Homo sapiens: one gene and its partners. The protein of the gene in region 1 interacts with the protein of each later gene in a pairwise test. Each region holds a gene or a part of one and is shown on either strand. Other genes may lie near its edges. The genes, in order: HIP1, TCAP, WDR31 and ZNG1C.

What was found.
Region 2: the proteins of HIP1 (region 1) and TCAP interact in binary tests that used the Homo sapiens proteins (3 or more experiments, as listed by UniProt).
Region 3: the proteins of HIP1 (region 1) and WDR31 interact in binary tests that used the Homo sapiens proteins (3 or more experiments, as listed by UniProt).
Region 4: the proteins of HIP1 (region 1) and ZNG1C interact in binary tests that used the Homo sapiens proteins (3 or more experiments, as listed by UniProt).

What each region holds. Positions count from the first base shown.
Region 1 is NC_000007.14:75,532,936-75,539,973, reverse strand, and holds the end of HIP1 (huntingtin-interacting protein 1), read left to right. Parts: intron 1-542; coding exon 543-651; intron 652-1,749; coding exon 1,750-1,802; 3' UTR 1,803-6,676; downstream 6,677-7,038. UniProt on the Homo sapiens protein: Plays a role in clathrin-mediated endocytosis and trafficking. Involved in regulating AMPA receptor trafficking in the central nervous system in an NMDA-dependent manner. Regulates presynaptic nerve terminal activity.
Region 2 is NC_000017.11:39,661,284-39,667,092, forward strand, and holds TCAP (telethonin), read left to right. Parts: upstream 1-4,065; 5' UTR 4,066-4,076; coding exon 4,077-4,186; intron 4,187-4,432; coding exon 4,433-4,826; 3' UTR 4,827-5,271; downstream 5,272-5,809. Other genes in the region: STARD3 (stAR-related lipid transfer protein 3), read left to right, coding at 968-1,084, 1,521-1,770. UniProt on the Homo sapiens protein: Muscle assembly regulating factor. Mediates the antiparallel assembly of titin (TTN) molecules at the sarcomeric Z-disk.
Region 3 is NC_000009.12:113,312,684-113,316,275, reverse strand, and holds the end of WDR31 (WD repeat-containing protein 31), read left to right. Parts: 3' UTR 1-3,054; downstream 3,055-3,592.
Region 4 is NC_000009.12:68,237,340-68,244,987, forward strand, and holds the start of ZNG1C (zinc-regulated GTPase metalloprotein activator 1C), read left to right. Parts: upstream 1-4,643; 5' UTR 4,644-4,692; coding exon 4,693-4,846; intron 4,847-7,648.

The DNA of each region.
Region 1 (7,038 bases):
ACCTGGGTTTCTAGGGAACTGGGATTGAAGAAGGGTTACAACTAGATTGGTACTCACCATACAGTTAGGCTAAACATTAGAGTTGTTTTTAGATAGTGATTTCTCAGAGGAACAGAAGATAAGCCCACCTACCATTTAGGCATTTGTAAAGCATCATTCACTTCCAGTAGAAGATCACAGTGAGTAAAGCATAAGAGCTACTGGGATAGATAAATGAATGGGAGAATGGAAAAATTAGAGCAAAGAAGAGAATTGAAATTGAGGGCCAGATAAAGTATGGAAACGGTGAATAATATGGAAGAAGAGGAATTCACAATGCAGCAGAAAGGGAGTAATCAAAATAAGATAGATGTAGGCTGGGCATGGTGTTTCATGCCTGTAATCTCAGCACTTTGGGAGGCCAAGACAGGAGGATCTCTTGAGGCCAGGAGTTCACTACCAGCCTGGGCAGCAGAACAAGACCCCATCTCTATAAAAAAATAAATAAAAATTAAATCTCTGAGAGATGATTAAGAGAAAATCCCACTTAATTTCCCTTACAGGTTAGGGTGCTAGAGCTAGAAAATGAATTGCAGAAGGAGCGTCAAAAACTGGGAGAGCTTCGGAAAAAGCACTACGAGCTTGCTGGTGTTGCTGAGGGCTGGGAAGAAGGTAAGCTGACTCCAAGGATGGGCACTAACCCGCAGCAGGGAGGGGAAGCTGTGTGGCCAGGGCCTTCCCCTAGAATGGAACAGAACAAGGAACCCACCAGATCGGTGGCTTCTTCCTTCTCTTCTCTCCTCATGGAACCTGTTTTCTCTTCCGTTGTAAATAACCTTTAAGCCTAACTTTGGGTGAAGTTATGGTGATTTGAAAGCTTTTGTTGTCACCTTTTAAGACCTAAACATTGATCATAACTCACTCACTGCCATTCCCTCCCAGGCCCAGCTAGCCTTGCCAACTCCCTGGGAATTTAGTTTCTGGCCAGCAGAGAGTTGAAAAATGAATAAATAGTGGTCAGTCGAGATCTGGCAGACAGGGACAAGTGAATTACAAGGTTCTGTCTATCTAGAGCCAGTGAAGGGCAACAATTGCCAAAAGACAGAAGGGATCAGGTGCTAGGCCGGGCGTGGTGGCTCACGCCTATAATCCCAGCACTTTGGGAGGCCGAGGCGGGCGGATCACGAGGTCAGGAGATCGAGACCATCCTGGCTAACACGGTGAAACCCCGTCTCTACTAAAAATACAAAAAATTAGCCTGGCGTGGTGGTGGGCGCCTGTAGTCCCAGCTACTCAGGAGGCTGAGGCAGGAGAATGGCGTGAACCCGGGAGGCGGAGCTTGCAGTGAGCCGAGATCGCGCCACTGCACTCCAGCCTGGGCAACAGAGCGAGACTCCATCTCAAAAAAAAAAAAAAAAAAAAAAGAAGGGATCAGGTGCTGAGAAATGGAGTGGCATGGAGTCACATTCAGGCTGCCAGCCCAGAGACTTGCCATCCATCACCTCGAGTCTATATGTTGTTGTCTGCATGTCGAAAGCAGTCAACTTGATCACAGCCAAGACTGTTCACTCTTAGTGGACTTGACTGACTCTGGGCACCAACCATAGACAGATCCTAGTCATTCCTAGACACGAAACTTGGGGACTATGTGATTACACCATGGTTATAATTATAATGTATTTTTGAGCCCCCATGGTGGCAGGTTTTGTTGGTTAAGTGAATGAATGCATTCATGAGTGCTTTGCAACATAAATTATCATTGTCTTTTAGGAACAGAGGCATCTCCACCTACACTGCAAGAAGTGGTAACCGAAAAAGAATAGAGCCAAACCAACACCCCATATGTCAGTGTAAATCCTTGTTACCTATCTCGTGTGTGTTATTTCCCCAGCCACAGGCCAAATCCTTGGAGTCCCAGGGGCAGCCACACCACTGCCATTACCCAGTGCCGAGGACATGCATGACACTTCCAAAGACTCCCTCCATAGCGACACCCTTTCTGTTTGGACCCATGGTCATCTCTGTTCTTTTCCCGCCTCCCTAGTTAGCATCCAGGCTGGCCAGTGCTGCCCATGAGCAAGCCTAGGTACGAAGAGGGGTGGTGGGGGGCAGGGCCACTCAACAGAGAGGACCAACATCCAGTCCTGCTGACTATTTGACCCCCACAACAATGGGTATCCTTAATAGAGGAGCTGCTTGTTGTTTGTTGACAGCTTGGAAAGGGAAGATCTTATGCCTTTTCTTTTCTGTTTTCTTCTCAGTCTTTTCAGTTTCATCATTTGCACAAACTTGTGAGCATCAGAGGGCTGATGGATTCCAAACCAGGACACTACCCTGAGATCTGCACAGTCAGAAGGACGGCAGGAGTGTCCTGGCTGTGAATGCCAAAGCCATTCTCCCCCTCTTTGGGCAGTGCCATGGATTTCCACTGCTTCTTATGGTGGTTGGTTGGGTTTTTTGGTTTTGTTTTTTTTTTTAAGTTTCACTCACATAGCCAACTCTCCCAAAGGGCACACCCCTGGGGCTGAGTCTCCAGGGCCCCCCAACTGTGGTAGCTCCAGCGATGGTGCTGCCCAGGCCTCTCGGTGCTCCATCTCCGCCTCCACACTGACCAAGTGCTGGCCCACCCAGTCCATGCTCCAGGGTCAGGCGGAGCTGCTGAGTGACAGCTTTCCTCAAAAAGCAGAAGGAGAGTGAGTGCCTTTCCCTCCTAAAGCTGAATCCCGGCGGAAAGCCTCTGTCCGCCTTTACAAGGGAGAAGACAACAGAAAGAGGGACAAGAGGGTTCACACAGCCCAGTTCCCGTGACGAGGCTCAAAAACTTGATCACATGCTTGAATGGAGCTGGTGAGATCAACAACACTACTTCCCTGCCGGAATGAACTGTCCGTGAATGGTCTCTGTCAAGCGGGCCGTCTCCCTTGGCCCAGAGACGGAGTGTGGGAGTGATTCCCAACTCCTTTCTGCAGACGTCTGCCTTGGCATCCTCTTGAATAGGAAGATCGTTCCACCTTCTACGCAATTGACAAACCCGGAAGATCAGATGCAATTGCTCCCATCAGGGAAGAACCCTATACTTGGTTTGCTACCCTTAGTATTTATTACTAACCTCCCTTAAGCAGCAACAGCCTACAAAGAGATGCTTGGAGCAATCAGAACTTCAGGTGTGACTCTAGCAAGGCTCATCTTTCTGCCCGGCTACATCAGCCTTCAAGAATCAGAAGAAAGGCCAAGGTGCTGGACTGTTACTGACTTGGATCCCAAAGCAAGGAGATCATTTGGAGCTCTTGGGTCAGAGAAAATGAGAAAGGACAGAGCCAGCGGCTCCAACTCCTTTCAGCCACATGCCCCAGGCTCTCGCTGCCCTGTGGACAGGATGAGGACAGAGGGCACATGAACAGCTTGCCAGGGATGGGCAGCCCAACAGCACTTTTCCTCTTCTAGATGGACCCCAGCATTTAAGTGACCTTCTGATCTTGGAAAAACAGCGTCTTCCTTCTTTATCTATAGCAACTCATTGGTGGTAGCCATCAAGCACTTCCCAGGATCTGCTCCAACAGAATATTGCTAGGTTTTGCTACATGACGGGTTGTGAGACTTCTGTTTGATCACTGTGAACCAACCCCCATCTCCCTAGCCCACCCCCCTCCCCAACTCCCTCTCTGTGCATTTTCTAAGTGGGACATTCAAAAAACTCTCTCCCAGGACCTCGGATGACCATACTCAGACGTGTGACCTCCATACTGGGCTAAGGAAGTATCAGCACTAGAAATTGGGCAGTCTTAATGTTGAATGCTGCTTTCTGCTTAGTATTTTTTTGATTCAAGGCTCAGAAGGAATGGTGCGTGGCTTCCCTGTCCCAGTTGTGGCAACTAAACCAATCGGTGTGTTCTTGATGCGGGTCAACATTTCCAAAAGTGGCTAGTCCTCACTTCTAGATCTCAGCCATTCTAACTCATATGTTCCCAATTACCAAGGGGTGGCCGGGCACAGTGGCTCACGCCTGTAATCCCAGCACTTTGAGAGGCTGAGGTGGTAGGATCACCTGAGGTCAGGAGTTCAAGACCAGCCTGTCCAACATGGTGAAACCCCCATCTCTACTAAAAATACCAAAAATTAGCCGAGCGTAGTGACGGGTGCCCGTAATCCCAGCTACTCAGGAGGCTGAGACAGGAGAATCACCTGAACCCCAGAGGCAGAGGTTGCAGTGAGCTGAGATCACGCCATTGTACTCCAGCCTGGGCAACAAGAGCAAAACTCCGTCTCAAAAAAAAAAAAAAATTACAAATGGGGCAAACAGTCTAGTGTAATGGATCAAATTAAGATTCTCTGCCCAGCCGGGCACAGTGGCGCATGCCTGTAATCCCAGAACTTTGGGAGGCCAAGACGGGATGATTGCTTGAGCTCAGGAGTTTGAGACCAGGCTGGGCATCATAGCAAGACCTCATCTCTACTAAAATTCAAAAACAAAATTAGCCGGGCATGATGGTGCATGCCTGTAGTCTCAGCTAGTTGGGGAGCTAAGGTGGGAGAATTGCTTGAGCTTGGGAAGTCGAGGCTGCAGTCAGCCCTGATTGTGCCAGTGCACTCCGGCCTGGGTGACAGAGTGAGACCCTGTCTCAAAAAAAAAAAGATTCTGTGTCAGAGCCCAGCCCAGGAGTTTGAGGCTGCAATGAGCCATGATTTCCCACTGCACTCCAGCCTGAGTGACAGAGCGAGACTCCATCTCTTTAAAAACAAACAAAAAATTATCTGAATGATCCTGTCTCTAAAAAGAAGCCACAGAAATGTTTAAAAACTTCATCGACTTAGCCTGAGTCATAACGGTTAAGAAAGCACTTAAACAGAAGCAGAGGCTAATTCAGTGTCACATGAGGAAGTAGCTGTCAGATGTCACATAATTACTTTCGTAATAGCTCAGATTAGAATGGCTACCCCATTCTCTAGACAAAATCAAATTGTCCTATTGTGACTCTTCTAAAAATGAAGATGAAGAGCTATTTAATGACACACCTTGGATTAAAACGGGAATCACATCTTAAAGCTAAAAATGAACCTGCAAGCCTTCTAAATGAGTCACTGAGCATCACTAGTGACAAGTCTCGGGTGAGCGTAAATGGGTCATGACAAGATGGGACAGCAACAAAATCATGGCTTAGGATCGACAAGAAGTTAAAAAACAGCTGCATCTGTTACTTAAGTTTGTAAGACAGTGCCCTGAGACCTCTAGAGAAAAGATGTTTGTTTACATAAGAGAAAGAGGCCAGACATGGTGTCTCACACGTTTAATCCCAGCACTTTGGGAGGCAGGGGCGGGTGGATCACCTGAGGTCAGGAGTTCAAGACTAGCCTGGCCAACATGGTGAAACCCCGTCTCTACTAAAAATACAAAAATTAGCCGGGCATGGTGGCAGGCGCCTATAATCCCAGCTACTGGGGAGGCTGAGGCAGGAGAATCACTTGAACCCGGGGGACAGAGGTTGTAGTGAGCCAAGATCGCACCACTGCACTCCAGCCTGGGTCACAGAGTGAGACTCCATCTCAAAAAAAAAAAAGAGAGAGAGAGAGAAAGAAATAGAAGAGAAGAGCCATCTTGGCAGGGTTATTTTATATCTGAGCAAGGAGTTTAAATGAGACTAGTTTAGATTGTCTGCTGATGCAGCCGTCCATAGCAGTACCCCTAAAATCCCACCAGAATACGGGTCCCTCTAACCCAGTGGCTGGAAGAACCACTGTCTAGAGCAACTTTTCTTGGAACTGTCCCAGCTACCAAGTCAGACACCAAGGTTTATGCCACCAGGTAACACGGGAATCACAGGTACATGTCGCTCCGGTCAGATTAGTTGGCTTTGGCCCCTCGACCCTGTGCAGGAGCTAGTTCTCAGCTTGCAGCTGGAAGTTCCCTCTTAGCTCCTTAGTCTAGAGGGGTCTCCTGGCTCCATTTGACCCTGGTCTTTAATAACCGGTCAGCATCTTGCTACCTTCTACCACCTTTCCAAATCTCTGGAAATCCTGCCAGGGAAAGCCTCCAGTTCCAACATTGGCTTTCCAAGCAAACTGGCTTTGCCCTCTCTCTGCCATCCTTGTCCTCCAGAGACTGCACCACCTGTAGCATAGAAAACCACCACCACGGACCTGCCAGCCATCGGCGCAGCAAACCAGCCAGCTGTTTGCTGCCAAATTCCTTCCTCTCCCAGGTCCAGACCAAATACAAGATCAGCACCACACCGTGGTGTTGTCAGGAGCCAAAGCAACAGGAAACAATTCAATGCTGTTGGGTTCGATTCTGAGAGTAGATTTTTCCAGACATGTCTTTCAGGTGACCCTCAACTACCTCAGGTTTGAAGGCCCTAAATGAAACTGATTACCACTCATAGGGACAAACCGAGGGGGTTCGGTTACATCTTGGTGATAATGCAGTTGTCTCAAACTTATAACAGACTCTTTCACATTTCAGTTTGCAGGGATAGGGTTGGGTTTGTTTTTCTTCTGTTTTTAACCTTTCCCCTGGGTTTCCATTAGGGTAGTTCCTTGAAATGAATTTCATTTTTCACTGAGTGCCTACCTTCCCAGGGCAGGTGGCCACTGGCTTCTGTTTCCCTCCAACAATACTTTTATTATGGTATTAAGACCTTTCTTTGTATAATACATTGCATCTGTGTTTTCAATTTTTCAAATAAATATTTCCGCCTGGCAATGGAGCGTGGTGGTGATTGACCAGCCAGCGTGGCTCTGAGGTATAGGCTCCAGTGAGAAGCCTGCATTTGTATCCTGGGGTTCATGGAATCCACTTAGCCCCACACCTCTGGGAATATATCTTAGAAATATTAGTTTTGAGCCGGGTGTGGTGGCTCACACCAGTAATCCCAGCTCTTAGGGAGGCAGAGGCAGGAGGATAGCTTGAGCCCAGGAGTTAAGAGACCTGCCTGGAAAATATAGTGAGAAGCTGTTCTCCACAAAAAGGAAAAAAAAAAAAGAAATATTAGTTTGATATTGGGCATGGTGGCTCATGCCTGTAATCCCAGCAATTTGGGAGGCTGCAGTGGGAGGATCACTTGA
Region 2 (5,809 bases), on another chromosome or scaffold:
ACAGCTGGAACCAAGCCACCAAGGCTGGACGGGATGTGCGGCGGTGGCTGGCTGGGGTAGACCATGGATGGGGACCCGTGCAGGGAAGGGGCCTGAGAGCCATGTGCTCACTCTGGGCTGATTGACCTGAGCAGGAGGCTCTATGCTCTGGGTTTCATCTTCCTGCCTAAGGAGACTCGGGTCCCCTTTCGTCCTCCTCACCCTGTCCTCACTCCGTCATCTTTCTCTGGAGTGGCTCAGGAGTTCCCCCAAAGATAAAGGGATTATGGCCTTCCCGCATCTGTGCCTGGGCTTCTGGAGTCTTCCCTTTTGTCCAGTCAGGCTGTGGTGCTGCGGGTGGCCCCCTCCCATAGACCCCACTCTTCCCCATCCCCTCCTGGGTTCCAGCAGGAGCACTGTTCTTTGAATAGGATGCCAGGCTCTGCTTTGGGCACTGGACAGACTTGCTGGGTGCAGGGAAGCTCACTTCCTCTCTGGATGCCAACTTCCTTATCTGCAGAATGGGCTTAGGTGTGCTCAGTGGAGCTGAGGGAGAATGAAATGGTGATGGGATGTGAACCGTGCCTCCCAGGCTTAGCCTTCTCCTGAGCAGGTGTCCCCTCCTGAAGGGGAAGGGGTAAGAAGCGCCAGCCCAGCCTACTCTGCCATAGCAGGGCTGACCTAGAATCTCTGGACAGAGTGTATGAGGGCTGGGAAGGTGGTGAGCTCTCTGTCCCTGGGGGTGTGCAAGCACCAACAGGCCGTTGTAGGAGGATTCAAGCATCACAGAGTGGGTGGGGGTGGAGGGCCGATTCTGCAGCCCATGGGACACCTGTGCTAAGCCTTGTTCAGATAGGGTAGCTCTGCCTTTCTGCTTCCAGCCCAGTCCCAGCTGGGCCAAGAATGGAGTGTGAGTGGTAGGGGCTGCGGGGGGGTGTCAGGGCCTCACTCTGTTCCAAAGTCCCCCCAATGATGCCTCTTTCCATAGGGGAGAGAATGGCCCTGGGGGCTTCATCGTGCTCAAGTCGGCCAGTAACCCCCGTGTTTGCACCTTTGTCTGGATTCTTAATACAGATCTCAAGGTGGGGTGCTGGGGGGCTGCCAGGTGGGTTCTGTGGAGTGGAGGGGACCCTGCTGCTGACTTGGTTGCTGCATGACTTTGGGGGCTCTCTGCCATGCCTGGGCCTCCCCTTTGTCAGCCACCTTTCTTACTTGAAAATTTGGGTCAGGGTCCAGATGGTCTCTTAGCCCTGGGTTGCTGTAGGGCATGTGCCCCCCCTTCTTACCTCTGAGTCCTGAGGCCCTGAGGAAGGGTGGCTGGTGGCCAGCCCGGCCCCACCCTGGTCTGTTTGTGTTGCTGGTGCCAAGAGCCAGGCCCAGCATGTTCTTCCTGCCAGGGGTGAGTGGGAGAGGGCGACCCAGGCTGGATTCCAGAGCTGCACCTGCATTCTGGCCCAGAGCCCCCCTGCTGGTGCCAGCTGCAAGGGGAGACCCTGCTGAGGGCAGGCCATCAAGTGTGACTTCTGCCTGCCTTCCCCCAGGGCCGCCTGCCCCGGTACCTCATCCACCAGAGCCTCGCGGCCACCATGTTTGAATTTGCCTTTCACCTGCGACAGCGCATCAGCGAGCTGGGGGCCCGGGCGTGACTGTGCCCCCTCCCACCCTGCGGGCCAGGGTCCTGTCGCCACCACTTCCAGAGCCAGAAAGGGTGCCAGTTGGGCTCGCACTGCCCACATGGGACCTGGCCCCAGGCTGTCACCCTCCACCGAGCCACGCAGTGCCTGGAGTTGACTGACTGAGCAGGCTGTGGGGTGGAGCACTGGACTCCGGGGCCCCACTGGCTGGAGGAAGTGGGGTCTGGCCTGTTGATGTTTACATGGCGCCCTGCCTCCTGGAGGACCAGATTGCTCTGCCCCACCTTGCCAGGGCAGGGTCTGGGCTGGGCACCTGACTTGGCTGGGGAGGACCAGGGCCCTGGGCAGGGCAGGGCAGCCTGTCACCCGTGTGAAGATGAAGGGGCTCTTCATCTGCCTGCGCTCTCGTCGGTTTTTTTAGGATTATTGAAAGAGTCTGGGACCCTTGTTGGGGAGTGGGTGGCAGGTGGGGGTGGGCTGCTGGCCATGAATCTCTGCCTCTCCCAGGCTGTCCCCCTCCTCCCAGGGCCTCCTGGGGGACCTTTGTATTAAGCCAATTAAAAACATGAATTTAAAAAAAAAAAAAAATTCCAGCCCCTCCCACTGCCTTGCCTCTTGAGGGAAGAGAAAGGCAGGCAGCAGCTTGGATGAAGAGGGAAGACCCCTCACACAGCCTCTCCTGGGCTCACAGGAGGGCGGAGCCCGGGGAGCCAGTTCCTGAAACATGCCCCCCATTCCCCCCCCGCCCACCCCCCACTCCCCGCTTTCCTGACCAGTTCAACTGAGCAGATGACTGGTCAGAAAAAAATGCCCCGCCCCCTGCCAGGCTTCAGCGGGGCAAGTTTAAAGTCTCTAGTCCAGGAATGGAGGTGGGGGTATGGGCACCTGGCAGTGCCCACAGCAAGCCTTGACTGTGTGGCCTGGAGATGGGGCCTGAGCTTCAGGGTCACTGAGGCACCTCTGGGATCCAGGCCACCTGGAGCCCCGGACCTCCCAGACTCCACTCACCCATTCCCTCTCCCCGCACGGCACTCACACCAGGGGCGGCCTGGAGCCCGGATCGCAGGGCGGGGCCAGGCCACTGCCTGCCTTCCTCCTCCCTCCCGGCTGGCCTGCCCCCTTGCCTGCCTGCATGCAGGCTTCCAGCAGAGCCAGCTTCTTCAGAGCCAGGTGGATCCTGTTTCGGTCCTGCCTAGGTGTGTGACCCTGGGCGAATCTACCTCTCTCAGCTTCTGCTTCCCACTTTATGAAAATGGGACTGATGTCACAGGGTTGTTATGAGATTAAAAGATATGAAGAACCGGGGACAGTGCTCAGTAATCAATAGTCTGCAGTTCTGCACCCACGTGCTCCTGGGTACTCTGCCGTCCCCACAGGGTCCTCAGCTCAGCCCCTGTCACTGCCTCTCCTGCCACCCTTTGTCCACTCGGCAGTGTTCTCACTCCTCATCCCCCCACACCCACCACCTGTCTGCCAGCCTCTTGCACCATGAGTTGCTACTCCTGGGGTGCTGGACTGTCCCCACAGCCATCTGTCTCCCCTGCTCCCCATGAAGAAGAGCCAGTCCCCTCCCAGGTAGCACATCAGAGCGGGCAGGCTCCAGAGCTCTTCTGGTCCTCTTGCAGTGGCCAGAAAGTGGGGAAAGGGGCCCAGAGAGGGGCAGGGACTGACCCATGGTCACACAGCCTATTTATGGCTGATCTGGAGCCAGGCCTTCTGACTATCACCCATCAGAGCCCCTGGATTCCCATTTCACCCAACACAGGTGTTGGGGTAGAACTGGGGGCCCTCCACCCCTACTAGCCTGACTGTCTCCTGAGACCTGTCTCCTAAGACCACTTACCTGACCACTGGCCATGGGGAAGGAAAACACCTGGCCAAGGCTCATGCCCCAGGTTCCCAGGCATGAAGTTGACTGTCTCCGCCCCTGCTGGTGTGGTGAGGGTGACTGGGGACTAGGCACTAGGCCTTTGGTGCAGGCGCCTGAGGACGTGGTTGCACTCTCCCTTCTGGGGATATGCCCTTGAGCCCAGGCAGAGGAGAGCACAGCCAGGGCAGGACCTGGCAGCCCTGGTACAGAGCCCAGAGGGGGCATCAGTTCCTGCTGGTCCTGCTCTGTTTACAGACAAGCTGCTGTCCTCCCTGCAAAGGGGAGTGGGTGGGGCAGAGGGCAAGTGCCAGGGGGGCACAAGGCTGGGCATGTGGCTGGCATGAGACGGTGTCTGAGTAATGTCAGGCACCTGGAGGCATTGACCCCAGGACCTTGGACCCCAGACCTCTGACCGGGGGGCAGCCAGCGTCCAGGTACCCCAACCCCTGCCCTGGGTCCGGCGTCCCCCCATTAGTGAGTCTTGGCTCTACTTATAGCATCTGACACCAGAGGGGCCGAAAATAGCCCCTGGAGAAGGGGGAGGAGGGGGCTATTTAAAGGGCCTGGGAGGGGAGAGAGAATGAGGAGTGATCATGGCTACCTCAGAGCTGAGCTGCGAGGTGTCGGAGGAGAACTGTGAGCGCCGGGAGGCCTTCTGGGCAGAATGGAAGGATCTGACACTGTCCACACGGCCCGAGGAGGGGTGAGTGTGGGTCTGCTAGAGCCCTGCCTCTGCTCCCCCAGAGCACCCTCACTGAGCCATGAGGCCAGAGCATGAAGCCCTGGAGAAATTTCTGGGGGTGGGGGCAGGAAGAATGCCCCATGGGGAGAGCAAAGGGGAACCACCCTTCCTGCCCCCAGGTCCCAGCAGCCCAGGGGAGCCCCCCACCCAGCCTGTGCCCAGAGAGCAACAGCTCCCAGGAGCTCACTGCCCCTCCCCTCTCCCCAGCTGCTCCCTGCATGAGGAGGACACCCAGAGACATGAGACCTACCACCAGCAGGGGCAGTGCCAGGTGCTGGTGCAGCGCTCGCCCTGGCTGATGATGCGGATGGGCATCCTCGGCCGTGGGCTGCAGGAGTACCAGCTGCCCTACCAGCGGGTACTGCCGCTGCCCATCTTCACCCCTGCCAAGATGGGCGCCACCAAGGAGGAGCGTGAGGACACCCCCATCCAGCTTCAGGAGCTGCTGGCGCTGGAGACAGCCCTGGGTGGCCAGTGTGTGGACCGCCAGGAGGTGGCTGAGATCACAAAGCAGCTGCCCCCTGTGGTGCCTGTCAGCAAGCCCGGTGCACTTCGTCGCTCCCTGTCCCGCTCCATGTCCCAGGAAGCACAGAGAGGCTGAGAGGGACTGTGACTTGGGCTCCGCTGTGCCCGCCCTGGGCTGGGCCCTTCCTGGCTAGGACTGTGGAGGGGAGCTGCTGGCCATGGCTGCTTTGTAGTTTGCCCAGAGTTGGGGGCTAGGGGAGGGGGGAGCCAGAGGCCAGGATGCCTGAGCCCCCTGAGTTCCCAAAGGGAGGGTGGCAGAGACAGTGGGCACTAAGGGTGGAGAGTTGGGGGCCAGCACAGCTGAGGACCCTCAGCCCCAGGAGAAGGGACAAAAGGTACTGGTGAGGGCAAGAGGTGCCTGGGAGGAGTGGCCCTGATCCAGGAAAATGTGAGGGGAATCTGGAACGCTCTAGGCAGAAGAAGCTGGGAGGGAGGGGGAGGTGAAAAGGGCAGAGGCAAGGATGGTGGGGCCCCCAGCACCCTCTGTTAGTGCCGCAATAAATGCTCAATCATGTGCCAGAGTTGCATCTCTTTCCTTGTGGTTGGGGGGGCTGGCCCATGGGTGTCCCCTCAATGCCCACTTCTGGGACCAGGCTCCGCATCTGAGCTAAATATGGCAGAGCTAATGGGTACACCCCATACTTGGGGTGGGGGTGGGGGCAGGACAGAGCTGTAAACAGGGTGCTGTCTCCAGTCTCCTTCCCGTACCCTGACCGCTGCCCAGTCCTGGCTTCTGTGTCCAGCCCCCTGGCACTGGGTGGTAACCAGCAAGCCAGCTGGCATCCGCATCCAGGGTTTGTTTCAATGATGTCTCGTGGAGAATATGGAGGGGCTGGTGCCAGGACTGTCCTTGGCTTTGCCTCGGGGTGTGAACGGGGTCAGTGACCTCTAAAACTAACCTGCCTCTCAGTTCTGAATCCAGACAGAATCAATCCTCAGCTGTGTCTCGCTCCACACCCCCTGCCCTGGAAGCCAGGGAAGGTTGGAGGTGCTAGGGGGTCAGGCTCCCCTCTGTGACCCCTGCAGCTGTTGTGGTGACTCATGTCCCAACCTAGCTGC
Region 3 (3,592 bases), on another chromosome or scaffold:
AGGAGACGGACTGTAGACAATGAGATTAAGCTTCAATCACTGCTCCTCAGCAATGTGAAGAATCAAAGTCAGGGCAAGAAAGCGAAAGCTTGGACTTCTATTCAAAGTGGCAGCAGAGTGGGAGGGCGGTACCCTTCTAGCCCAGTGCTGCTGAGCTTGTGTGAAAATCAGACCTGAGATGGCTTGAAGCAGCCAAGAACCACATGGGCATTGCCCAGAATTACAGGAGTTAGCACACCAGCTCTACAGATAAGAAAACATTGAAATTCAAAGATTAAGGCCAAAAATATCTCACTTGCAATTTTAATATTTTCATTTGGATTTATATAAATGAAACATATATATGTTTTGGAATGGCCAGAGTGAGGCAAAGGGGATCCCTGAAATAACATTAGAACATACAGGAAAAACGAGGCAGGCAGATCACTTTAGGTCAGGAGTTCAAGACCAGCCTGTACGTGCGTGCCTGTAGTCCCAGCTACTCGGGAGGCTGAGATGGGAGAATCACTTGAACCTGGGAGGCAGAGTTTGCAGTGAGCTGAGATTGTGCCACTGCACTCCAGTCTGTGTGACAGAATGAGACCTTGTCTTGAAAAAAAAAAAAACAAAAAACCACATACAGGAAAAAAGAGAGGGATGGAGTCAACTGTGCCCCAGACATTAAGCCCCCTTCAGTGAGGAGGGGCAAGGTGCTCAGGCCTGCCTGTGTGGCCCCCAGGAGTCAGACCTCAGCCTCATGCTCACTGGTCCATTTTCCTCCAGGGAAAATGGAGTTCTTTCTGCCTTCAGAGATGCCCACACATAAGGCACATGAGGCTGTTGGTGACACCATCACCAACACTGGAGATTCCCTTTCTGACAAGTCCCAGCCAAAGAAAGATTTTGCATTTGTCTTCTCTGTCCTCTGCTTGTCTCTGATACCAGTGACTGACAGCCACCTTCCTTCTTCCCTCTCTTGGTGTGATCATGGCTAACTGCAGCCTCAATCACCAGGGCTCAATCAATCCTCCCTCCTTAGCCTCCTGAGTAGCTGGGACTGCAGGCATGCACCACCACACCTGGCTAATTTTTTGTGTGTTTGTGTGGTCTAAAACTCCTGGGCTCAAGTGATCCATCTGCCTCGGCCTCCTTAAGTGTTGAGATTACAGGTATGAGCCACCACATCCAGCTGAGAGTCTGTTCTTAAGCTAGTACAAAGAGTCAGACCCGACTTTGAATCTCCACTTCTCCATTTAGCTGGATGATCTTGGGCAAGTTATAAAATCTGTTTCCTCTTCACTTTATAACGTGGGTTTCATGATCATACCTCGCCACAGGGCTGTTCTGAAGACTGGACATAGCTATTTTAAATGCCAGGAAAGGCCAGGCGCAGTGGCTCAAACCTGTAATCCCAGCACTTTGGGAGGCCGAGGCAGGAGGATCACCTGAGGTCAGGAGTTTGAGACCAGCCTGACCAACATGGAGAAACCCCGTCTCTACTAAAAATACAAAAATTAGCCAGGCGTGGTGGTGCATGCCTGTAATCCCAGCTACCTGGGGAGCCTGAGGCGGGAGAATCGCTTGAACCCAGGAGGCGGAGGTTGCGGTGAGCCGAGATTGTGCCATTGCACTCCAGCCTGGGCAACAAGAGCGAAACTCCATCTCAATAAATAAATAAATAAGTAAATGCCAGGAAAGGTGGTGACAAATGGTAGCCATAATTATTTATTGTCCTCTCTGTCCAGACTAAATGTTCCCTTTTCCATATTAAACATTTACCATTCTGCCGGACGCGTTGGCTCATGCCTGTAATCCCAGCACTTTGTGAGGCCTAGGCGGGCAGATCACAAGGTCAAGAGATCGAGACCATCCTGGCCAATATGGTGAAACCCCGTCTCTACTAAAAATACAAAAATTAGCTGGGTGTGGTGGTGCCCGCCTGTAGTCCCAGCTACTCAGGAGGCTGAGGCAGGAGAATCGCTTCAACCGGGGAGGCAGAGGTTGCAGTGAGCTGAGATTGTGCCATTGCACTCCAGCCTAGGCAACAGAGAGAGACTCTATCTCAAAATAAAATAAAATAAAATAAAATAAAATAAACGTTTACCATTCCTTGATCCTTTTTTTTTTTTTTTTTTTTGAGATGGAATCTTGCTCTGTCGCCCAGGCTGGAGTGCAGTGGTGCAATCTCGGCTCGCTGCAAGCTCCGCCTCCCGGGTTGACGCCATTCTCCTGCCTCAGCCTCCCGAATAGCTGGGACTACAGGCGCCCGCCATCACGCCCGGCTAATTTTTTTGTGTTTTTAGTAGAGACGGGATTTCACCGTGTTAGCCAGGATGGTCTCAATCTCCTGACCTCGTGATCCGCCCGCCTAAGTGCTGGGATTACAGGCGTGAGCCACTGCGCCCGGCCTCCTTCATCCATTCTTAGATCTTATCCTCTAAACCTTTAGTCATCGTTTCACTCTCCTTTGATTCCTTGTTATGGGTCTTTCAACTCTGGAAAGACAAAGAGATAGTGGGAGAGGAAGCCCGGTCACTGAGCATCTACAGAGGGCTAAATATATTTATTCTCATTTGTTATTCCCAATATTCTCTGTATTGTGATTTCCATTTCACAGATGAGGAAGCTGAGGGCTAGAAACATGCAGTACTTTGCCCAAAGTCACACACATATTAAGAAGAGCTGAGGTATGAATCTGGGTCTGCCTGACTCAAAGCCCAAACGCTTTCCTTTGCATCGTGTCACAAAGTCATAGACCATGACATTGTTTGTATCTTCAAGACCAGTTATTAACTTTCTGGCTCCAAGGAGATCCCCTGCCCAAGTGCCTAGGGGCAGTAGACAGCTGTCTCAGGGACAGTCGTAGCATGTGCTGGATTATTAGTGCAGCAGCTGACACTTTTTCCCAGAAGGGAGAGAGGCAGCAAGTCAGAAAGTTCACGGGAATGAGTTGGGAGGGGGTCCCAGGGAAGGGGGACAGGCTGCCAGGAGAAGGAAAGTACACGGGAGAAAATAGTGGGGCTCTGATGAGTTAGTAGGGTTCTGTTACCAATAAAATTGTTTCCATAAACTGTACATGTGCTTGATGTCAAATTATCTATGCATTTTAAGTAGAAAATAGATTAGTAAATTCTAGTGTTTGTAGAGGACTTTTTTTAGTCTGATATGCCCTAATCAGATACTCTCAGCACCTAAGATACAGGTTGCTAAAATTCATTCATTCCTTGAACATTCATTGAACACTTCATTTTAGAGGCTGCCCTCTAAAATCATATCAAGGAATTTTCCAAAGACAATTTTTTTCCAGGAAGGTGGATAAGCCCTTGGAACCTGGCCAATTGCATATTTAAAATTTAAATAAATGTATACATTTACTTACATATTTATGATTTAAATATATATACTTGAGGGGAAATGGATACTTATTATTAATGTTCTTCATTTTGGCACAGAAAAGTGTAGAACTCGGGTCACTTGGTGTTTTTATAATCCAACAGTGAGATAAAAACTATTTCCAAATGGCCTTCTGAAAACATAATTATTAAAGAGCAGCTTTATTATTAGTAATGTAGTAGACTGTGGCAGGTGCGGTGGCTCATGCCTGTAATTCCAG
Region 4 (7,648 bases), on another chromosome or scaffold:
TAAGGTGGGAACAAGGAAACAGTATAGAAAAAAAAACTGATTGGTTAACATCAGATTACTTTTTTATTTTTTTGTCACCCAGGATGGAGTGCAGTGGCACAATCTTGGCTCACTGCAACCTCACCTTTCGGGTTCAAGCAATTCTTCTGCCTCAACCTCCCAAGTAGCTGGGACTACAGGCGTGTGCCACCACACCCAGCTAATTTTTGTATTTTTAGTATAGACGGGGTTTTGCCACGTTGGCCAAGCTGATCTCAAGCTCCTGACCTCAGGTGATCCACCCGCCCTGGCTTTCCAAAGCGCTGGGATTACAGGCATGAGCCACTGTGTCTGGCTGAGATTGCTTTTTTGTAAGTAATCTGTTGTTACTTTGGGTTACTTTTCTGTAAGGGATAGAGCAGAGGGGACTTCCTTATTATACTGGAATCTTCTGTCTTCAGGAGAAGAAAAAAAAAAACTCGTCTATTTTGGGACCTGTTTTTTAAAGTTTTAGTTTGATTTTGTGGTGCTTAGCATGAGCGACTCCATTTTGGTTTGGTCTGGTCTGCTTGGGATTAGTGCAGGAGCTCAGTCCAAAACAATGGCCTCTCATAATTTTGTTTAATACATGAAATTCAAATTTCAAACTTGTAGACATTTGCTCTCTCTCTTATTATATAAGTACCTACACAATGTCCTCAAATTTGCTTTTTGATCTGTAAAGACTAAGATATTTATCATCTAGTTTTACAGAAGAGTTTGCAGATCTTCTGGTTTAAAAGAGCAGGAGATTTAGTGTCAGGCAGGTTTGGATTGAGCCCAAGGGCTGCCATTTACTGATTGTATGACTTTGAGCAAGGTATTTATCTTTTCTAAGCCTCAATTTCCTCATCTATAAAATGGGCACACAAATAGTATTTACCTTGGAGAGTTAAATGGGATAATGCATTTAATGTGCTTAACACAGTGCCTATCAGATGCTTAGGGGCTCAAAACATTATTATTGTTGTTGCTGTTGTTGTTTTACCCTAAAGTAAATGAGACAAAATAGCAAAGCTAGATGAGGAGGAATTTTTAAGATACATCAGAAACTGTAATAGATTCTAAAATATTATAATTAAGAAATTTCATACTTATTTAAAAAGGCATTTTCAATTTAACAATTTAACAATTTAACCCTCTTATAAGTTAAAAAAAAAAAAAAAGCCCGGCACAGTGGCTCACGCCTGTAATCCCAGCTCTTTAGGAGGCTGAGGTGGATGGATCAGGAGGTCAGGAGTTCAAGACCAGCCTGGCTAACGTGGTGAAACCTCGTCTCTACTAAAAATACAAAAATTAGCTGGGGGTGGTGGTGCATACCTGTAATCCCAGCTACTCAGGAAGCTGAGGCAGGAGAATCGCTTGAACCCGGAGGCAGAGGTTGCAGTGAGCCAAGATCGTGCCACTGCACTCCAGCCTCGGCAACAGAGCAAGACTCCATCTCAAAAAGAAAAAAGAAATAAAAATAAAAAGTCATGCCCAGCTATTTTGGGAGAACTGAAATTACAACTCTATCTGAGAAAATAAAATGACAGGACTCCACAGAATCCATAGATAAAAACTTAACTGAAGAGGAATATGGAACAGACTAAAGGAAAAATTTTATCAAGCTGTAATCTTTATACTTGTGCCTAAGGCCAGAACTTGAAACTGCTGAAGACAGTGTTTCTCTACAAATGCACACAGGCACCCCATTTTGATGCACAGATAGGTGTTTATTTCTTTTAAGAATAGCAGCTTTATTGAGATAAATTTCACATATGATACAATTCACCAATTTAAAGTGTACAAGTCAATGGTTTTCAGTATAATCAGAGTTGTACTACCATCACCATAATCAATTTTAGAACATTTTCATCACCGCCCAAAAACCACTGTAGTCTCTCCCCAGTCCTCCACTCCTGGGAACCATTAATGTACTTTCTGTCTCTATAGATTTGCCTATTTTGGTTATTTTATATAAATGGAATCATACAACATGTGGTCTTTTGTGAATAGCTTTTTTCACTTACCATAATGTTTTCAAGATTGATTCATTTTGTAGCAGGTATCAGTCCTTTTTCCTGTTTATTGCCAAATAATTTTCCATTGTACGGATAGATCATATTTTGTTTATCCATTTGTCACATTTTGGTTGTCTATCAGTTGATAGATATTTGTGGTGCATTTAATTTTTGGCCAATGTGTAAAACTTATTTTGCTCTCATTGAGGCTACATACTGTTACAACAATGCTATTTGGTCAACTTGACTGAGCTGGCCTCATAGGTTACAGGTTGTTCATTGTTAGAGATGAGACTTTAGACCAGACTGGACAACATAGTGAGACCCTGTCTCTACCAAAAAGAAAAAGAAAAATTAGCCAGATGTAATGGCATATGACTGGAGTCCCAGCTACTTGGGAGGCTGAGATGGGAGGATCACTTGAGCCCAGGAGTTTAGGACTGCAGTGAGCTGTGATCGTGCCAATGCAATCCATGCTGGGCGACAGAGTGAGACCCTGTCTCAAAAAACAGAAAGAGGGATTTTAGTATAACATTCAGCCAGTGCCATATTGGGAACCCACAAGAATGTACTTTTAAAAATATGTCAAAGAAGATGGTGAGGGCTGTAATAGCTGCTATTCAGGCAGTAATGCAGTGCTGAAGGGACATCAAGCAAATAGTGTGATGCCTGTGGGTGCAATGTTACTCCTTCCCTTAGGTTGCCAAAAAAATCAATACTTCATAGCATTCCTGAAACGAAAAAGCTTATGAACCATTGTGTTTAGGGCGTAAGCTATCTATTTTGGGCTACCCATCACAGCTTCTCTCCTTTGGCAGAATACAGTGAACTGAACCACCACACCTAAGGTATTTGCCTTATTTCTTCCTCAGCTGGTTCATGGTTACATTGTCAAAGCTGGCAAAGCATTCAAGACCTGATTTCTCAGACCGAGTGTATGTGTGAATATAATATACTCATTTGCACAAATATAAACCCTCTGTCTTAACTGTGTTCTGCAAAAGGCGTGATAAATACTTTCAAGTTATATGTACTTATCAGTAGAACTAATGGAATACACACAGTATATTTTATGGGGAATTTCAGAGAAGGAAGGAAAAGTCAACCTTTTATTTGGCATCAGGATAGTAGTAAAACATTCTACTTGTGCATCAGATAGATTTTTATGACCTAACCTGGACAAGTAACTTAACTCTTGGTGCCTCATGTTTGAAAGAGGGATAACACTCTACAGGGTCATTCTAAGAATTACATATTGCCAAAACACATGAAAAGATTCTCAACCTTGTTAGTAATCAAGGAAATGCAAATGAAGATCACAATGAAGTCTTCTTTTGTACTCAATTGATTGGTGAAAAATGCATGCCTGATAATATTGACATACAGACCAATGAGATCTCTTATAATTTGCTGGGAAAATGTATCAATTTGTACAAACATTTTGAAAAATAATTGTGCATTTTCTTGTGAAGTAAAACATTTGAATAATCTAGGACCCAGCAATTCAACTCTTAGACACTCAAGAGGAAGTTGCACACACATATGTCAGGAAAAATGTTCATAGCAGCCCTGTTCATAAGAGCAAAACCTGGAACAATTGAGAGGAAATGAATAAATTGCCGTGTAGCCACACAATAGAATACAAGACAGCAGTGATGCTGAAAAATATAGCAAGCCTCAGGAGTTTATATATTATATGGATAATTTTATGAAGCTCAAAAACACCCAAAATTAAACAACATATTCTCTAAGTACATACGTGGGATATGTGATAAAACTAAAAAGAAAACAGGGAAGGATCAGCAATCCAGAACCAATTCATGACTGTTGTTACTATCTTATGGGGCAGGCTGTGGATTGGAAGCGGGGGCGGTGCACATAGGTACGTGTAGCTTACTGGTAATGCTTTTATGTTAGGAATGAGGTCAAAGGAGTTCACTATAAATTTATATTAGAAAGAAGGGCTATCTATGGATTAGTGATGAGAGTGTCATGCACCAGCAAATATGATTAATGAACTTAGGTTACCTGAGGTCCAAATAAATAATGAGAAAAAAGTAAATAAAAGTGATGCATGAATACTAAAAATTTGGAATTACATATATAATATGTAATAATAAAAAAAGAAAAAATTGTCACTGGTTATCCTTCAGGTATAAAAATTACAATTAAAATTGTAATGTTATAACCTTCCATTCTTTCCCCTATGAATTAAAACTTTTTTTTTTAACGAGACTAAAAAATCAAGTTGATAAAATCTATGCCCTGTGGGAACTGGTTAGGTCAGGCTACCCACTCCAGATTTCCAGCAGGCTGGCCTCAGCTCTACCTACAGCCAGTAGCTTATTAAGGCTCTAGGCGCCAGTGACACCTTCAGACAGGTGGTTAGTGCGCCCTAAGGACTCTCCGCAGCGTCGCTCAGGTTCACAGAACACGCCCAGGGGCGTGTCCAGCTGTCGTCGGGGAGAGCCCACCTCCCCGGGGGGTGTGGCTAAGGGACGAGGCAGTTCTCGTCCAGAGCCCAGGTAATCCGGGCGGGATCAGCTAGCGTCGCGATGTGATGACGTCAGGCCCCGGCCAGGCCGGGAGTGGCGTGCTGGGCGTGCGCGGCTGCGGTACGGCGTGTTGGTCCCAGCGGTTCAGCTGAGGTAGGGACGTGCTGTAGGCCGGAATGTTACCGGCTGTTGGATCTGTGGATGAGGAAGAGGATCCTGCGGAGGAGGATTGTCCTGAATTGGTTCCCATTGAGACGACGCAAAGCGAGGAGGAGGAAAAGTCTGGCCTCGGCGCCAAGATCCCAGTCACAATTATCACCGGGTATTTAGGTAACTAACCATCCCAGTCACAAAATGCCGTGAACTCTGGTGTCATGGGATTTTGCGGGCTGCCGGTGCCTCTTCTCCTGAGGCATTGGGGCCTCATGATCAAGAGCAAATGTCTTTGAGGTAGGGGCTGGGTCACTTGCTTCTCGTATGGGTTACCTCTCATCTTGGGAGTTAATGATGCCCGGTCCCCTCTGCGTTAGATTCCCATTTCTCAAGTGAGATGGAAAGTTAGCCTTTGAAACAAGGCTTTGAAGCTAAGACACGCCCCCCTAATTGTCTCTGTGACCTCTTACCAAGTTATCTTACCTTCCTGACGCTCATCTACCTCACCTGAAAATGGAAAAATACCTGTCACCTGTGAAATAGGGCCGGAACAACCTACCTATTGCCATTAAAGGATGTCCCGTCTGTAAAATGCCCGACACGTGGGGCTTTCGTCAGCAGATTCCCCTTCCCCAGGAGCCAAAGTCCTCCAGCCAGTTGGCAGGAAGTGCTCCTATCTTAAACACTTTTCTTTTGAGGTCTGTTTGTAAACCACTGCGTAGGAAGTAAGAATAAAATCTCTGTCCTCCAAGACTATTTCTCAAACTAAGAACGTTTAGAGTGTACAGGGATACTCGAAACCACAAGTTTGTGAACTTGGTAGTTTCGTGAAGGGCGGTTTATGCACTTACACTAGAAGTTTCTTACTGGAAAAGTTTGAGAAATATATTTTTAAACCTTACAGTTAAATAGAAGGGCTAGAACAAATATATGACTGTATTAGAAGTTTGGAAAAAGTTAAGAAATGTAAATAAAATAATACTGTTTCCGGGAAATAATATTCCTAGTTGTTGCTAGAGACAGGTACAGACTTGGGCCACTTCGTGACCTTTTATGTAAAAATAAGAAATAACTGCTTTTGTTTTTTTAAAAACTTTGTAGACTGTAAGTTTATTCCCGTTTTTTGCTCGGAAGTAATTTTATAAAGGAATTTATTTTTGGCGTTTCCCCACAGTTATTCAGAGGCTGCTCTACTGAGAAGATGAACAAATTTCTTGTCCAAAACAATGTATTTCAAACGTGCCCCTCGGGCCTTTCCCGTGTTGCTCACTGGTAGGTCAGTAGATCATTGGAGAAAATGATCTGAAGCTCAGGAGTGAGAATTAATACCAGCAACCTTGTTGCTGAATCTAGGGATAGTTTCACTCCTATCCCTGACCATTTTCCCTTTTTGAAACACTGTTCCTTTGGCTTCTATTACATTTTTCTTCTGATTTTTCCACCTGCTTCTCTGGCTTCTTTTTAAGGCTCCCTCCTCCTTCCCCCTTTGTCCATCTTTAGCTACACACCTGTGTAATTTCTATTTTGATGTCCTACAACTTAAAACTTAACATGTCTGAAACTTCGTCTGTTACCATCCCCCCAAATCCTGCTTCTGTGATCCCAACCATTTGGAATACTCTAAAAGCCTCCTGACTAATCTGGAGTCTTGCTGCCCTTTAATTTATTCGTTGCATGTTAGCCTTAATGATCTTTATAAATGTCAATCCGACTGCGTCACACCTTTCAGTGGCGTCCCTATGGGTTAAAATTCAAATTCCTTAACATGAATTACAAGGACCTGTAGGATCTGGATCTTGCCAACCTTTCCAGCCTGCCAAATTGGCCCCGCACAATAAACTAAGGTTACTTCAAAGGTGCCAAGTGTTTTAGCCCCTTGGAATAGGTACTTTTTTACTGTGACTCCTCTGGCTAGATGTCCCTCTTAGGTTCTCCATAGCATTTTGTGCATCTCCTATTGAATATGTCACCCTGTGACATAATTGCCTCCTTATTCACTGAATTCCCCTCCATTCCCCCCTTCCCTTAATATTTCTAAGCTCTATGAAGGCAGAGACTATCTTGTTCACTTTTTCACCAAGGCCCAGCATAAATCTGTAACGTATTAGAAACCTTTGAATGAATGAACTATGTCTTAAAGTGTTTTTTTTTTTCATAATATGGTTAAAAAGCCCTAGTAAATCTTCTCTTAGAAGATTTCTTACATTCACCCTTTCCTTTCAGTTTTCACATCACTGCCCTGTGAAACACTCATGTTCAGGGCCTCTGTCTCAGGCTTGGACTGGTTTTAAGATCTTCCTCATTGCCCTAAGTCTCTCTCTTCCATACTATACTTCATATTTTTGTGATGTTGAGCTTCCTAAAGTACTCTAAATATAAGCCTTCATCTCTTAAAAAGCTTTGAAAGGAATATGACCTAAAAGATATTAATACCCTAATACTCCGTAAAATCTTCCTAGTTGTAGGAAGATCTAGTTATATACTAGAAAACTTTATTTCAGAAGACATGTATAGCCTACATGTAAAAGTTTTTAGCAGCACTGTAATAGTAAAACACTGGAAACAAACCAAATGTCCAACAAAAAAAAAGATAAAGAAATGATATAGTCATACAATTGAACTACAATACTATGCAGTTAGGATTTTCTTTTTTTCCTCTATGAATTTTAGTGTGTACGGTTCACAAGACTTTTTTTTCTACTGGAGATTGACATATTGGGTTTCATATGCCACCTGCTGGATAAAGTTGGTATAGCTTTATGAATTTATCTTAACTGAACATTCTGTTCATTGTTGACACTACCTGGCTCTATTCCCCATTTCATAAAAACTTTTATAGATTGTTTAAAGCATACTATAAGTAGCCATATAGTCAGCCTGAAGTTGCGTCTCGTTAATGTTGAAATAAAAGGTCACTATAAATAAAAGATTGTGTGTCAATTTTAGGGAAGGTTAGGCTAGGTTGAAGAAACTGTTTCA